4 linked regions of the Homo sapiens genome follow. The protein of the gene in region 4 interacts with the protein of the main gene of each other region in a pairwise test. Each region holds a gene or a part of one and is shown on either strand. Other genes may lie near its edges. The genes, in order: SLC2A8, SPG7, AATK and BDKRB2.

Region 1 (3,500 bases), on a different chromosome or scaffold from region 4:
TTTTTTTTTTTTTTTGAGACAGAGTCCCGCTCTGTCGCCCAGGCTGGAGTGCAGTGGTGGCTCTCTGCAACCTCTGCCTCCTGGGTTCAAGCGATTCTCCTGTCTCAGCTTCCCAAGTAGCTGGGACTACAGGCATGTGCCACCACACCTGGCTAATTGTTTGTATTTTTGGTAGAAAGGGGGTTTCACCGTGTTAGCCAGGATGGTCTTGATCTCCTGACCTCATGAACCGCCAAACCTCAGCTTCCCAAAGTGCTGGGATTACAGGTGTGAGCCACCGCGCCCGGCCGATAGGTGTGTCTTATGACTGAGTTCCAGGGACAGCTGGAGAAGGTGATACCCTCAGCTTTCCTGAAGCCCCCTCTAGGGGTGTGGGAAGGGCTGACTGCTTAGGTCAGTACCTTACTGTGCAGTGACAAACCAGAGGGCTCCAGAGGTGGGTGGGTCCCTGTAAAAATCTTCAGCCCGGGCGAGTAAAGGGCTGAGCAAGTCCCCTGAGAATGTCAGTGCCAGATTCACCATGTCGGCGAGTTGCAACGTGAAGGAGGCCGGGGTCCTGGGGACCCCGAGGGGCAAAGCTGGGCCAGCATGAAGAAACTTCAGGAGACAGGTGTGTTCTCATTAGAAAGAGGCCAGGCTTTAGAGGCCAGACCCAGTGGCTCACACCTGTAATCCCAGCACTTTGGGAGGCAGAGGTGGGCGGATCACTTGAGGTCAGGAGTTCGAGATCAGCCTGGCCAACATGGTGAAAACCCATTTCTATTTAAAATACAAAAATTAGCCAGGCGTGGTGGTGGGCACCTGTAATCCCAGCTACCTGGGGGGCTGAGGCACAAGAATTGCTTGAACCCAGAAGGCTGAGGTTTCAGTGAGCTGAGATCGCGCCACTGCACTCCAGTGTGGGCGACACAGTGAGACTCTGTCTCAAAAAGAAAGAAAAAACAAGGGCAGGCTTCAAATCTGACCATCCTGAGTTTGGGGATAGCCTCTCCTACGTGCTGTGTGACCTTGGCCAAGTCATACCACCTCTGAAAGCCTCAGTTTCTCTGTCTTGAAATGGGCATAACCTCATCTAGTCCAGTACCTGTCCATTAAATTAATTGACACATGAAAAGTGCCTAACAGTGGGTTCCAAATGAGAATTGTCAAGGGATGACTTGAGAACCATGGGGATCATCGGGGTAGGAGGCCTCGGGGGCCTGACGGGCTATGGCCTGGCCCAGGGCACAAGCCCTCTGCATCGTCAGGGCGGATGATACACAGGTCTTTGGTGTTTCATTTTTACCCACTTAACCACCCTAACAAATTCAGAATCCTGCCAGCGATCTGGCTACCTTGGGAGACCTGAGTAAACCAAAGCCCCCACTGTGTGCAGGTGTTGACATTCATCATTTCGGGGACAGGTACTGGGTGTCCACCCACCCGTGGCACTATCTTCAGCTCATCTTAATATGTGCTTGTTGCTTCTCCTGCCTTTCCTGATCAATTTCTGTGAGTTTCGATCCACTGGGGTGGGTGAACTCTGATAACTCCACAAAGTGACATGGTGGTGGCACGTTTGCTTCACATTGGGGCAATCATGTTCCAACGACTAGACTTCATAGAACAATTGTCTGCACCCCCAGCACAGAAGAAAAATAGGGACATCATGGCTACCTTAGAGGTATTTTTCCACTGGGAACCAGGGATGGGTAAGCCTTGGGCTTAGGAAAAATTAGTAATTAGAGCAGCAATGCCCTAGACTCATTTATTCCAGGGCCCCTTTGTAAGAGAACCTTTTAACTTTATATAAAACTAGGTAATTCTGCACTTATGCTGTTCTTCATACGTCAAGACAGCAAAATCCTCTCACCTCTCTACTTTCATGTATACTTTGAATAGATAATGCATTCAAATGACTCAACACTCAAGTGCCAGAGTGGAGAGATGTCCAGTGAAAAGCTTCCTCCGCCTCTGTCCCTTTCTTGTCTGGGGGAGTCCCCATTGCCTGTTTCTTGGTAGCCTTCAGAGAGTCTGTTCATATGAGGGACATGCATATTTATCCTCCCTCCCCCACCTCTTCTACAAATGGTGCCACATCATACCATGCGGACACGCAGCAAGCACCTCATCCTTCATTTTTGTGGCTACATAAATGTTTCGTTGAACGGATGCAGCCTAGTAATGTCCGCGTTGTCATACCCACTGTCGCTTCCGCAGCTGGTGTGATTGGCCCGTGCCATGTGCCTTCATGAACAGTTGTGATAATGGCAATGTCAGTAGCGAACATGAGGGCAGATGTGCAGAGGCAGCGAGGCCCCATCTCTGAAGCTGAGTCTTTGAGGCTGGCAAGGCCCAGGCTGGCTCACCCTGGCTCTGACGCCAGCCTCCTCCACCCACCCCCCGCAGGCTGGGTGCTGGAGTGGCGCTGGCTGGCTGTGCTGGGCTGCGTGCCCCCCTCCCTCATGCTGCTTCTCATGTGCTTCATGCCCGAGACCCCGCGCTTCCTGCTGACTCAGCACAGGCGCCAGGAGGCCATGGCCGCCCTGCGGTTCCTGTGGGGCTCCGAGCAGGGCTGGGAAGACCCCCCCATCGGGGCTGAGCAGGTGAGAGGCTGGAAGGCAGAGCTGACAGGAGTGGGACAGCAGTCACGGGAGGGTAGCACAGCCTGTTCCCAAGGCCACACACTTGGGGGGTGGGGGACAGGGAGGTGCCTATCCACCCTCCACCCTCAGCGAGGACAGGCCCAGTGTGTCCTGTCTTTGAGCAGGCCAAGACAGCTGGAGCCCCACGGAGCTGGGCCCTGGCCTCCAAAGTCACCAGCAAAGCCCGAGCTTTGACCCTTACTGTCCCAGGAAGAGAATGGCCAGGCCTGGTGGGGGATACAGAGGCAGAGCTGAGGACTTGGATTTAACAAAGGAGTTGCAAGGCAGGGTAGAGGGCTAAAAGTCTGGGTTTTAGAGTCACCCAGGCATGGGTTTGAAGCCCCCACGCTGCCCCTCACCTAAGCTTTAGCTCTTCACCTGTGATGTGGGAGTCAGCACCTGCTTCACAGTGCTGGGTGGGACTCAGTGGGGGAAAGGAAGGCGGGGCTTAGGGAGGAGGGGGGCTCAGTGGGGAGGGTGGGGTCAGCGAGGAGGATGGGTTCAGTGGGGAGGGGAGGGTCAGGGCTGTAGGAGGTGCTTAGCTAGGGCCAGGCCCAGACCTGAGGCAGGTGCTGGATGTGTTGGTGGTGGCAGGGATGAGGGCAGCAGCTTGCTCTTTGCCCAGATTACCTCTTTGTGGCTCCCCCCCACCTATCAGGAAGTGCCCTGGGCAGGTGAGGGTCATCTCACCTGACACATGGGGAGGCTGGGACTTGTCTGCACACCTGAGGACACAGGGGGTGCTGGGATGAGGAGCCAAGACGTGGGAGTCAGCGCTCCCCAAGCCTTAGGACAGTAGACCCCCAGAGGGGGGCCGCTTGCGGGAGGGGAGAGAGAAATCCTGATGGCCAGTATCCGTCAGAGCAGAGCTTTCAC
Region 2 (4,039 bases), on a different chromosome or scaffold from region 4:
CGTCAGCCACCACGCCTGGCGCTGTCTTGCTATTTTTAAAAACAGGAAACCTTGTTCTTAAAATACACCATGGCTAAGTGCAGAAGACGGTGCTCATTCACGTAAATCCTCTGGTGGATGCCTGATTATTTCAGTCTGGAAGGTTATTTTAACCTACAACACTATGCTCAGCTCTAGACGAGTCACCTGATAAAACAGCTGCCTTAAAGAGAAAATGCTCAGAATTCTGTCTTAGCAGTTTGGGGTGTGAGTGAGGGAGCAGCAGGTGCCATCCCCACCCCTCATCCCTGTCCTCTGCTGGAGTTTCCAGTTAACCTCAAAGAGAGTCCCGCAAGTCCGTCTGTGTCCTCCCTTTGGGGTGTTGCCGTCCAGTCATGCTGAAATCTGAGCTAAACATGCGGAGTTTACTTAGGAAAACGCTGCGTTTGGAGAATCGTGTGCCAGGGAGACGGACCTGTTGGTGTCCTGGTGTGAGGGATGAACAGTCTCAGGTTTTGTGGTTAAACATGAACCCTCTGTGGCCGCAGTTTCCTAAAACATCTGTTTTTGGCCGTAGTCTTGATTTTGCCATCCTCAGTCCCGTGCTGCAGCCTCGCCGGCCTCTGGGGGGCTCCTGCTGTGTCTGCAGGTGTAGCTGAGTCTGAGGCACACATCAGACGTGGGGCTGTGAGCTAACTTGCAGACATCCCTCCATTTCTTAGTTTTCCTATGAGTGGAAAATAGAAAGTCTATCTGTTGAAATTTTATTTCTCAAATTGTGGTTGAGGAAACAAATTTTTTAGACTTGGAAGTACAGATGTTCCTTGAATTAGGATATTTTCAGCTTCCCAGGGGCTCACTGGGAGGTAGCCCCATCGTAGGTCAAGGAGCTTAGTGTGCATATTGCTTTTACACCATTGTAAAATGGAAAGACCGTAAGTGGAACCGTCGTACGTTAGGAATCACCTCTAGTTTCTGAATGGTGTCCTCTTCACAATGCTGAGGTTGTCATTACCATGAGTTCCAGGCGGGCTCTCTGTTGACTGTAGGGTTGCTCGTCTGTCCCTGCGTTTCTCATGGTCCCCTCTCCTTTCTGCCCCCCAGCGGCTAGCCTTGATGTACCGAATGCAGGTTGCAAATATTGACAAGTTTGAAGAGAAGCTTCGAGCAGCTGAAGATGAGCTGAATATCGAGGCCAAGGACAGGATCCCAGTTTCCTACAAGCGAACAGGATTCTTTGGAAAGTATGTTGGATGTATTTGTTGATGCTTGAACTAAACCTAACTTGGCTTTGTAATCTGAGAAACAGATTGCAATCAAAAATCTCAAACTGTCTTTGCCTATAGTTAACTAGACTTTTTAGTGGGAGGGTTAAATAAATATAGAAGTGAATGATACAATGCCAGGAGATTTGGAAATATAGTTATCCCTGGGTATCCATGGGGGCTGGTTCTCGGACTTCCCAAGGATACCAGCACCTGAGGATGCCTAAGCCCCTGGTGTAGGATGCTGAAGTCTAAGCCCCTGATGTAGATGCCGAAGTCTCAGCCCCCGACGTAAGATGCCGAAGTCTCAGCCCCCGACGTAGGATGGCGAAGTCTCAGCCCCCGACGTAGGATGCCGAAGTCTCAGCCCCCGACGTAGGATGCCGAAGTCTCAGCCCCCGACGTAGGATGCCGAAGTCTCAGCCCCCGACGTAGGATGGCGAAGTCTCAGCCCCCGACGTAGGATGGCGAAGTCTCAGCCCCCGACGTAGGATGGCGAAGTCTCAGCCCCTGGTGTAAAATGCCGAAATCTTTGTGTGTAACCTAAGAACATTCTCTGATATGCTTTAAATCATCTGTAGGTTGATAATAATACCCAATACCCTGTAAATACTATTTCAATCGTTGTTATACTTTAGGGAATAATGACAAAAATGTGTCTGTGCATGTTGAGTATAGATGCACGTTTTTCCCCAGATACATTCATTCTGTGCTTGGTTAAACCTGCAGAGATGAAACCTGTGGCTGTGGAGGCCAACCGTGTGCAAGTCCGTTGGAGTTTGTTTAGTCACTTTCTTTAGTTGTGTGGCGCTTCTGAATTCACATTCTTGTATAATTTTCACTGACTGTGCTCTTTGATGAAAGCTTCCCAAATGGTCAGAGTGAGTGTGCAGATGCCGGAGATACCTAGTGATCTGGCCAGCCTTGTGACAATAACAACGTTCAGCTTTTTCTATTTTCAGTATATTTTGTTTTCAAAAGTAAGCGATCACTTTCAGTTAGCAAGGCAAGATCAGCCTAGCAGTAAGAAAGAAAGTCAAGGAGGACCGTGATAATGTCCTGGGCTTGCTCTCTTCTACAGACAGGAAAATGGAACGGGAAAAGGGTAGACACAGGAAGGTGAAATTCTCATTTCAGTGTTGAGAGGGAAACAGACCAGGTGGGAGCTGTCAGCACGTATGGACCATGGACCCTGACAGGTTCCTTAGTAGGACAAATGAGGGGCCAGCGGGTACTGAAACAGAGGTTTATTGTTGACTTGTAATCTCTGAAGATGTAGAATGCCAGTGACTGGCAAGTACTCCCTTGATCAAAATGTACCTCTAGCCGGGTGCAGTGGCTATGCCTGTAATCCCAGCACTTTGGAAGGCTGAGGCAGGGAGGATCTCTTGAGCCCACAAGTTCGAGACCAGTCTGGGCAGCATGGAGAACCCCATCTCTACAGAAAAAAAAAAAAGATGCACCTTTAATTCTATAACCCAGCAACACCTGGAAGATCACTGCTCTGAGGCTGTGTGTCTCATGTCTTTGTAGGCCAGTGATGTACAGAAGATGGAGGGTTGGGGCAGGCCCATTCTCGTGTCTTCGTAGGCCGATGATGGACAGAAGGTGGAGGTTTGGGCCGGGCGCGGTGGCTCACGCCTGTAATTCCAGCACTTTGGGAGGCCGAGGCGGGCAGATCACGAGGTCAGGAGGTCGAGACCATCCTGGCTAACACGACGAAACCCCGTCTCTACTAAAAATACAAAAAAAATTAGCCGGGTGCGGTGGCGGGTGCCTGTAGTCCCAGCTACTCGGGAGGCTGAGGCAGGAGGATGGCGTGAACCCGGGAGGCGGAGCTTACAGTGAGCCAAGATAGCACCACTGCAGTCTGGCCTGGGTGACAGAGCCAGACTCCATCTCAAACAAAAAAAAAAAAAAAAGAAGAAGATGGAGGTTTGGGGCAGGCCCATTCTCATGTCTTCGTAGGCCGATGATGTACAGAACAGAAGATGGAGGGTTGGGGCAGGCCCATTCTCGTGTCTTTGTAGGCTGATGATGTACAGAAGATGGAGGGTTGGGGCAGGCCCAGGGCAGCCCCTCCTCAGGATGAGGGCAAAAGTCCTGGGATTTGCTTTTTTTTTTTTTTTTTTTTGGAGTCAGGGTCTCACTCTGTCGCCCAGGCTGGAGTGCAGTGGTGCAATCTCAGCTTACTGCAGCCTCGACCTCCCAGGATCAGTGATTCTCCCACCTCAGCCTCCTGAGTAGCTGGGACTACAGATGCACACCACCACATCCAGCTAAGTTTTTTTGTATTTTTAGTAGACACAGGGTTTATTCTTACATTTTTCTTTTCTTTTTGAGATGGAGTCTTGCTCTGTAGCTCAGGCTGGAGTTCAGTGGCACGATCTTGACTCACTGCAGCCTTCACCTCCTAGGTTCAAGCATTTCTCCTGCCTCAGCCTCCCAAGTAGCTGGGATTGCAGACGCATGCCACCATGTCCAGCTAATTTTTGTATTTTTTTAGTAGATATGGGGTTTTACCATGTTGGCCAGGCTGGTCTCAAACTCCTGACCTTGTGATTCACCCGCCACGGCCTCCCAAAGTGCTAGGATTACAGGCGTGAGCCACCGCGCCCGGCCTGAGATTTGCTTTTTACTCTTAGGCTGATCTTGCCTGCCTGATTGAAGCTGATCGCTTACATTTGAAAACAAAATATACTGAAAATAGAAAAACCTGAACGTTGTTATTGTCACAAGGCTGGCTAGATCTCCGGCATCTGCACACTCAGTCTGACCATTTGGGAAGCTTTCAT
Region 3 (4,039 bases), on a different chromosome or scaffold from region 4:
GACGTGGGCCGGCACAGCCTCCTGTACCTGAAGGAAATCGGCCGTGGCTGGTTCGGGAAGGTACGTGTCCCGCCTGGGAGGGAGGACTCCCGCCTGGGAGGCAGAAGGGACACAGGGCTGCAGACCTGCTCCTCCTAGGAGCCACCCCAGCCCCGACGGTCCCTTCTTCAGTCTCTGGGCCCTGCTGGACCCTTCCCCAGGGAGGTCCTCAGCATCTGGCTGCATCCCCTTCTCCCTAGGGGGTCCTGGGGTCAGAGGTACCTGGGGAGGGGCCCTGGGAGGGAGAGGAGCAGCCTCTTGCTCATGGCCTTCCCCTGACCTTGGCCTAAACGAGACACCTGGGTCCCTCTTCCTCACTTCAAACCCCCAGAGAGAGAGAGAGAGAGGGCAGCGGGGGACCTTGTGGGGAGAGTAACACGAAAGACTCAGAATATTACAGCCAGAGGGTTGCCGGGAGGGATCCGGAAGCCATACCTCACGCTGCAATGAGTGGACGGGGCACAGGAGGAGAAGTGTCCTGTCCTGGGGGCCGGCGTGGGGCGGGTGGGAGAAGAGTAAGGCCTGGAAGCCGGGGCCGGTGGAGGCGGAGCAGCCGTGGGTGATGCTGTCTGTCCCACAGGTGTTCCTGGGGGAGGTGAACTCTGGCATCAGCAGTGCCCAGGTGGTGGTGAAGGAGCTGCAGGCTAGTGCCAGCGTGCAGGAGCAGATGCAGTTCCTGGAGGAGGTGCAGCCCTACAGGTGGGAGGCCACCGGGCACAAAGGCCTGTGCTGTGCGGCCCCCTCCTCTCCCTCCCCTGCTCGGCCCGACTCCCCCTCCCCACCTCCTCCCAAGTCAGGGGCCGCCTGTCCACTCCCGCAGGGCCCTGAAGCACAGCAACCTGCTCCAGTGCCTGGCCCAGTGCGCCGAGGTGACGCCCTACCTGCTGGTGATGGAGTTCTGCCCACTGGTGAGCTGCTGCCCGGGGGGATGCTGGGGTCTTTGCTGAGCCGGGGCCCTCCCTTGCCCTGCCAGTGTCTGGTGCCACCCCCTCCTTGGGGGCCTCACATCCTCCCTAAAGCCAAGACCCAGGGACCCTGCCCCCACCACCTTCCAGAGGAGGCGATGGGGAGACCTAGCCTCACCAGGGAGGGACTGTGGGGGCTGGGCACAGAACAGGCCTGGGCTGGGGCTCCCTGCACCCCTGGGGAGCTGCCAGCTGCTTGGTCACCTGCTTGTGTGCCCTGTGGTTCAGGAGGAGGCATCCTGGGCCAACTGGGGGGGGGCACTGGCCCACTTGGGCTCCACGGCCTCACTCAGGCTTGCTTTTGCCATGGGGGGCTGGGCCTGGCCACTTCCCCAGGCTGCCTGGAGTTCTGGGCCTGCCCATCAACGCCCCCCGCCCCGGGGACCTGTCCCCCCCTCCCCCTGAGACCTGCCCATCAACGCCCCCCTGCCCCGGGGACCCGTCTCCCCCTCCCCCGAGACCTGCCCCCCACCCCCTTCCACATATGCAGCTCCTGCACTGAGCCGAGGCTGTCTGTGGCTGGGCTGGATCCCCTGCTGGCTTCCCTCGGGACAGGGGCCCTCACACACTGGCGTCTGGACTCCTGACGTTGACCGTCCCGGGGCTGGGCTTTCGGCAGGTCAGGGGCTGCCGGCCAACCCTCGACCACCAGCCCCAGACTCCATCAAGCAGATCCACTTGGGCCCTGTGTTTCTCTCTCTACCACAGGCCAAGGGACTCCTGCTGCCCGGGGCTGGCTGAGGGGCAGTGGAGAGGAAGCCTTCAGTCCAGCCCAGCCCTGGGGGACACGGCCCCCCTCCAGGAACTGCTGGGTGCTGGCCACTGTGCAGGGCACGAGGCTGCTCTGGGCAGCTGCTGTCCCTCAGCTGTGGGTAGGGGTGGAGGAGTTGGGGAGGTAGGTGGGGACCTCCCAGGGTGGCCAGCCCCCAGCCTGCTGGTGACTGCGCCACACCCCCTTTCTGCAGGGGGACCTCAAGGGCTACCTGCGGAGCTGCCGGGTGGCGGAGTCCATGGCTCCCGACCCCCGGACCCTGCAGCGCATGGCCTGTGAGGTGGCCTGTGGCGTCCTGCACCTTCATCGCAACAATTTCGTGCACAGGTGAGGGCGGGCGCGGGCCAGCGGCCGGGAAGCCCTAGGCCAGGCCCCTCCCCTGAAGGAAGGGCATAGGGCGGGTCCTGCCTCAGGGGGCTTGCGAGGACCGGCCAGGTTCATCTCATGCAGCATCAGACAACCACTATGCAGAGGGATTTTATGACGTTTTTGAAAAATTGGGAAGACAATGGTTTGACACCCACTTTGCAGGTTTAGACGAAGAGATGCGTACTGTCAAGCTGGCCTGTTCTCTGTCCCCGAGGCAGTCAGCCAGCACCCTGCAGCCCCGCGCCAACCCCACACTCTGCTAAGCCCTCGCTTTGGGGCTTGAGGGAGACAGACCCTGCTTCGAAGGACCCTGGAGGGAGGGTTCTGTCCTGCTTGGGCCAGGATGCCCAGCCCCTGGGGACCCCGGGGGGACATGCTGGAAGAAGTGGCGAAGGACACGTGGCCCCGTCAGCCCCAGACGCCGCACGGCTGTCCTCTCCAACAATATCCTGGTGCTGAGTGATGACTCAGGCGACTCCAGCATCAGTGATTTTGTTGAAGAGGGCAGCTGCCAGCCTCCCGACCTGCCTGCCGGGCCCCAGCTGCCCTGCCCCCAACCCCAACCCACCCCACTCCACCCCCTAGGCCCAGGACACATGGCCCTGTAGCGATCCCCTGGCACGCAGACATGGGTTTTATGTGGGGAGGGACAGGCTGGGTTGGCCTCTGTCCCCACCCTGAGTCCTGAGCACAGAAGTAATACGGCAGCTGTGGTAATATCTACCCAGTACCCTGTGCCTCCTCACACCCACGTGACCAGCCAGGCAGGGTTCAAAGCCAGCAGCCAAGGCAGGCTGGGTTGGAGGTAGTGCCAGGCGTAACCTGCATTCTTTCCAGACCCTACCCAACCCTGGGGCCAGTGGTGGCTCAAGTGAGAGTGAGCTCCAGCTCTGAGTGGGCATGGCAGGGCTGGACCCTAAAACTGGACTCCGGCAGCCGGCAGGACCCCTGGGACACTCCAGGCCTCAGTTTCCCCATCAATTCCCACCTCCTGGGGAGCCGAGAGTGATAGTGTAGTAGAGCTAGGAGGAGAGGGTCCTGGAGAAGCGTGGACCGGTCCGGGTGGGTTCCGGCAGGTTCTCACCCTCTCTAGGCCCCATTCTCCTCTGCACTGTAACATTTGAGGCCCACGCACACAGTCCCTCCCCAGGTCTCAGGGTTGGGCACAGAGTAGGGCCCTGGGCAGGGATGGGGGGTGGCAGTGTCTCCAACGCCCCTTCCAGCCTGGACTGTGAGCCATCCAAGTGTTGGCAAAGGACCCTGTGCTGGATGCCCCCGCCCGGCACACCCCACTGACCCTCCCCCTGCCCCCACCCGGCACACCCTGCTCACCCTGCTCACCCTGCCCCTGCCCCTGCCCCTGCCTGCAGCGACCTGGCCCTGCGGAACTGCCTGCTCACGGCTGACCTGACGGTGAAGATTGGTGACTATGGCCTGGCTCACTGCAAGTACAGAGTGAGTGGGGTGGGGTGGGCTGGGCTGGGCATGAGGGGCAGGGCCTGCGCCGGCAGGGGTGACCCGTCCCTGTGCCAACAGGAGGACTACTTCGTGACTGCCGACCAGCTGTGGGTGCCTCTGCGCTGGATCGCGCCAGAGCTGGTGGACGAGGTGCATAGCAACCTGCTCGTCGTGGACCAGACCAAGAGCGGGAATGTGTGGTGAGTGCGGCCCTGGTGGCACCGTGAGGGGCCGAGGCCGAGTGCCACCTGCCCACCCATGTCAAATCATGGCCATGAGTAGTGAGGTCAGGGGGCTGCCGGAGCCACCTGTAGTGGCCACACGCCAGCAGCCCAAGTGGCTGGTTGGGTGGCGACCCCACACCGGGGGAGATACCACCCTGACAGGGTGCCCCAGGGACCCCATGGTGGGGTCAAGGCATACGTACAGGGCCAAC
Region 4 (4,039 bases):
ATCCCTACCAAACAGGAATCCTCTCGAGGGAAAAGACTGGGCCTTTCCCTCAGCCCCTAGCACCCACTCATGCTTGGCACCTGCTGTGCTCTAAGAGTGCAGGGGTCACTCCCTGACCACAGAGGGAGGCTCTCTGGGGTTCTCCCGGAGCCTCGGAGATTGCACCTTGTGCATGCGCTGCTGCACCTGGGGTACATCACCCCCACTCTGGAGCCCACTGGCCGGTTAGCAAAGTGAGAGGTGAGAGAAGGACCTCTTGGTCTTCTTTGAACAGAAAGATCCAGAAAGCAATGGCTAGAACACAAGAACAGGTCAGGGGAGGCAGGAGAGGGTCTGCACACCTGCTACAGGTGTGCTCACACGTGGGCCAGGGCCTGCAGATGAGGGATCTGTGCTGATCATTTGTGATAGCCAAAAGTAGTGAAAACCTGGGGGGACTCCTCAAATGAACTGTAGCACATTGGGGAGATGGACTCTGTGAAGATGATTCCTCTCTCCACCCACTTCCCTTCTCCCTCCTCCTCCCGCTCCTCCTTTTTCGGAAGCCAGGCACAGGGATTGAATCCCACCCCATTCCTCCCCTGCTGTGTGACCTAGGGCAAGAGATGTGGTCTCTGGGATCCTTCGGTTCCTTCAGCTATAAATAGTAGTAGAATTGCAAACTACCTACGAAAACTGGGAACTCCCTGCGAAGGCCGGTGCATTACAGGGCAGTCCTACTCTGAAATACTGTGAGGCTATTGAAAAGCAAGGTGGGTCGACAGATTGTTAAATGCAAAGAGGTGAGGACACAGCCGGCGGTGCATTTAGGGTGCTTCTGCAGGCGTCCTTATACATGGATATGTGCACATCTGCTCCTGAAAGCTCAGAAGATGTCTGGAAAGCAACAGGAGACACCAGTGAGCCTGGCTGTCTCTTGAGGCAACAGGCAGGGACAGAATCTGGAGGGAGACCTACCCCTCACTGTATTCTTTTTCGCACTCTGAAATGTTACCATGAGGATGCATATCTCTTTGCAAAAATTTAAATATAAAAAGCAAAACAAACTTGAATAGAAATAAACTACTTGAAAATTTTAGAAAACACTGTTACATCAAAGAGACAGATCATCAAAACTGAAATTATAGATATTTGAGAAACAACTAACTATAAGAACACTGCTTACCAAACTTATGGGATGCAGCCAAAGCCATAGTCAGGGGATGAGTCATGCCTTTAAATTTTTAAATTATTAAACCAAAAAGATTGCAAAAAAAAACTGTTCAATTCAATAAACTAGATAATAATGATCCAAAAAAGTAGAAGAAAGAAAAGAATTACAAAAACAAAATGACAAGTTAGAAAGGTAAAAAGCATTAATGTCAGTAGGCCATCTAAGGATGGCTCTTTGAAGAGCAGACAGGAGAAGGGCAATCCCAGGAAGTGCTATGTGCTATGCAGAGAATTAGAATAAGTTGATGGCAGAGATCAGTGGGTGGCGGCTCACTTGGGTGGTAAAGAGTAGCCTGCAGCCAAAGTTGGGCACAGCAGTGCAGTCTTCACTGGGGGAATGCCTGGGAAACAAGATTTGCCTGGGTAGGAGTTTCCATCAGCACCCCCAGAAAGGTCTCCTTTCTACCCTGGCCCCCAGTTCTTTGATGGGTTTTGCTGATGCTCCTGTGTCTCTGAACAGCAGGCGCCTCACCTATAGAAAGGTAGGATAGCAGGAGTTAACGCCCCCTCCCCCATTCCATGGCCCCTGCCTGGGATTCTACCATCTCTGCTTCATATGCTTTATAGGAGTTCGGTCTGAGCCCACAACCCAAACAGGCTCACAGATGTGCTAGCTATTTCGCCACCAGTATTTTTTTAATAGTCAATATTTAGAAATTGGCACCAACTGGCCCGATTGTTCAACAGTCCTGGGTTAGGTTACTAGGCCAATTACTTGCTGAGTAACCCAGGACAGGTCACTGACCTCTCCGAACCTCTCCTTTCTCACCTGTGTGATAAAGACTACTGCTGTGCCAACACAATAGGACTGTGTATGAAAGTACCCAGACTGTGCCTAGACTCAGGAAGCTGGTTTATTCCTTCCTCCCCTAACCACTTACTGAGAGACTGCTCAGGGCTCCCCTCAGCTCAGAGATCTTTCCCCACAAGGAGCTGAGAGCCTGGTGGGAGAGACAGGCAGAGACCCAAGTGGTTCTAACACAGCTCTCTGAATCTGTAACCCCAAGTCCCATCCCCAGAGGACACTGGGACAGTCACACTGATGGTTTGTCCCTAAGCCTCCAGCATCAGGAGCCATGTGGCAGGATCTCCACTCTTCTTCTTCCTGGGCCTCTGTCTGGACCGACCCAAACACACACACACACACACACACACACACACACACACACGTGTACACACACAAGTTGCTTCTTTGCTGCCTGCATGTCCTCACACCAGCTTATGACACACCTACAATGTTTGATGTGTCATTGTGGGCAGGTTTCAAGTTGGAGGACCTAGACCTAGGTAAAGTAGAGGGTCTCCCTAAGTAAGGGAGGGTGCACAGTGGAGAGAAAGGGTAGGGGAGACTGCCCAGTGCCATTGACATATGCCTGAGCCCCAGGGCACCCTTGGCCCCCCAAAACAATCACAAGTATCCCCCCCGACAAACCTGCCAAGTAGGCATTGTGTCTCCACTTGACAGTTGAGGAAATGGTCCCTAGAGGGGAGACAGAGCTAGCTAGAGACTGGGCTGGCCCTGGAGCCTGGCCTGGGTCTTCCCATCGCATCCTGCCTCCCTACATAAGCAAAGGTCGAGAGGTGGGAACTCCCAAAGATGCTCAGGCAGGGCCAGGGGAGACCAGTGGGGCAGGGAGGGGACAGGAGGGGAAGGAGGAGCTGGGGCTGGAGAGATGGGTAGGAGCATGAGTCCCTTGCCTGGGCCTCCCCATGGTGGGCGGTGATCCAAAAGCCCCAGTCAGAGCCCTCTGCCCTGTGACGGGGGCACCCTGCATGTCCCCTCACTCCCTGCCCTCCAGTCCCCGCCAGTCCTCATGTTTTCCATGAGGATGAGTACAGCCGCAGGGACTTTCCCTGCAAGTGGTCTGGGCCATATCTTCCGGGAGTCTGTTTGGACTGTGGTGTCTGTGGCTGAGGGGGTGGAGGTGAGGGCACCCAGGCCCATCACTTGACAGAACAATCTGTGGATTTGGGGGAAAGAGGAGGCGACTGTCATTCCTGAGAGAGGACGGGAACCAACAGGAAGGATTCCTGAGTGCCAGGGATGACCACACTGGATCCTCACAACAGCCCTCCTGCCGGGGACAATGCTCCTTATCCCACAAGCGGGGACCTGGGCTCTGACAGGAGGCCACACACTTACAGTCCCTCCCTTAGTGACCGGCAGAGCTGGGATTTGAACACCCCTGGTGAGACTCCCTCGTCCAGACCCCTTCGTTGTACAGCAGGTTTGCCTCACATGCCAGAGTCGGGGTGGCCTCAGGGCACAGCCAGGAGATGTCCCCAAATCCCGAAATGTGGTTTGAGTCCCAGTCCCTCATCTCTCCAGCCTCCAAGCCCTCACCTATGCAATGGTGCCTTGCCCGGCTCACAGGTTATGAAAAGGGGTGAGACGAGACAGTGTCCCCTAAATACATCTGACAGCACTTTTGAATGGAAAAGAGAAAAAGAAAATACTATAAGCATCCAGATTGACTGGAGGTTGGGGAGTTGGTGGGGGCGGGGACAGGCAATCCATAAAGCAAGAAAAATCAGGCTGGGTTCAGGCTTTTCTGCAGCAGCGAATGCATCAGAGCTGCCAGGGGGGCAGCTGTAGACCTAAGAGAGTTCCTTTAAGCACAAATTGGCTGATTATCTTTTTTACGTAAATAAACCCATAATTCATTCCAAACACTTGGCTTATTTAAATATTTTTATTGCCAAAGGAATATATGTTCTTCACAGAAAACTTGGATACCATGACAAACAGTAAAGAAAACCCAAAAGCAACCTATGATCCCATGCTCAAAGACAACCAGCGCCAGTAATAATTTGGTATTTTGCCTTC

Evidence for each region.
Region 1: the proteins of BDKRB2 (region 4) and SLC2A8 interact in a two-hybrid assay, tested with the Homo sapiens proteins (one large-scale study listed by BioGRID and IntAct).
Region 2: the proteins of BDKRB2 (region 4) and SPG7 interact in a two-hybrid assay, tested with the Homo sapiens proteins (one large-scale study listed by BioGRID and IntAct).
Region 3: the proteins of BDKRB2 (region 4) and AATK interact in a two-hybrid assay, tested with the Homo sapiens proteins (one large-scale study listed by BioGRID and IntAct).

Annotation. Positions count from the first base shown.
Region 1 is NC_000009.12:127,400,169-127,403,668, forward strand, and holds part of SLC2A8 (solute carrier family 2, facilitated glucose transporter member 8), read left to right. Parts: intron 1-2,388; coding exon 2,389-2,585; intron 2,586-3,491; coding exon 3,492-3,500.
Region 2 is NC_000016.10:89,525,246-89,529,284, forward strand, and holds part of SPG7 (mitochondrial inner membrane m-AAA protease component paraplegin isoform 1 precursor), read left to right. Parts: intron 1-1,083; coding exon 1,084-1,223; intron 1,224-4,039. UniProt on the Homo sapiens protein: Catalytic component of the m-AAA protease, a protease that plays a key role in proteostasis of inner mitochondrial membrane proteins, and which is essential for axonal and neuron development.
Region 3 is NC_000017.11:81,124,491-81,128,529, reverse strand, and holds part of AATK (serine/threonine-protein kinase LMTK1), read left to right. Parts: coding exon 1-60; intron 61-619; coding exon 620-738; intron 739-859; coding exon 860-947; intron 948-1,969; coding exon 1,970-2,103; intron 2,104-2,574; exon of another isoform or gene 2,575-2,653; intron 2,654-3,156; exon of another isoform or gene 3,157-3,254; intron 3,255-3,515; coding exon 3,516-3,600; intron 3,601-3,681; coding exon 3,682-3,803; intron 3,804-4,039. UniProt on the Homo sapiens protein: May be involved in neuronal differentiation.
Region 4 is NC_000014.9:96,211,153-96,215,191, forward strand, and holds part of BDKRB2 (B2 bradykinin receptor), read left to right. Parts: intron 1-4,039. UniProt on the Homo sapiens protein: Receptor for bradykinin. It is associated with G proteins that activate a phosphatidylinositol-calcium second messenger system.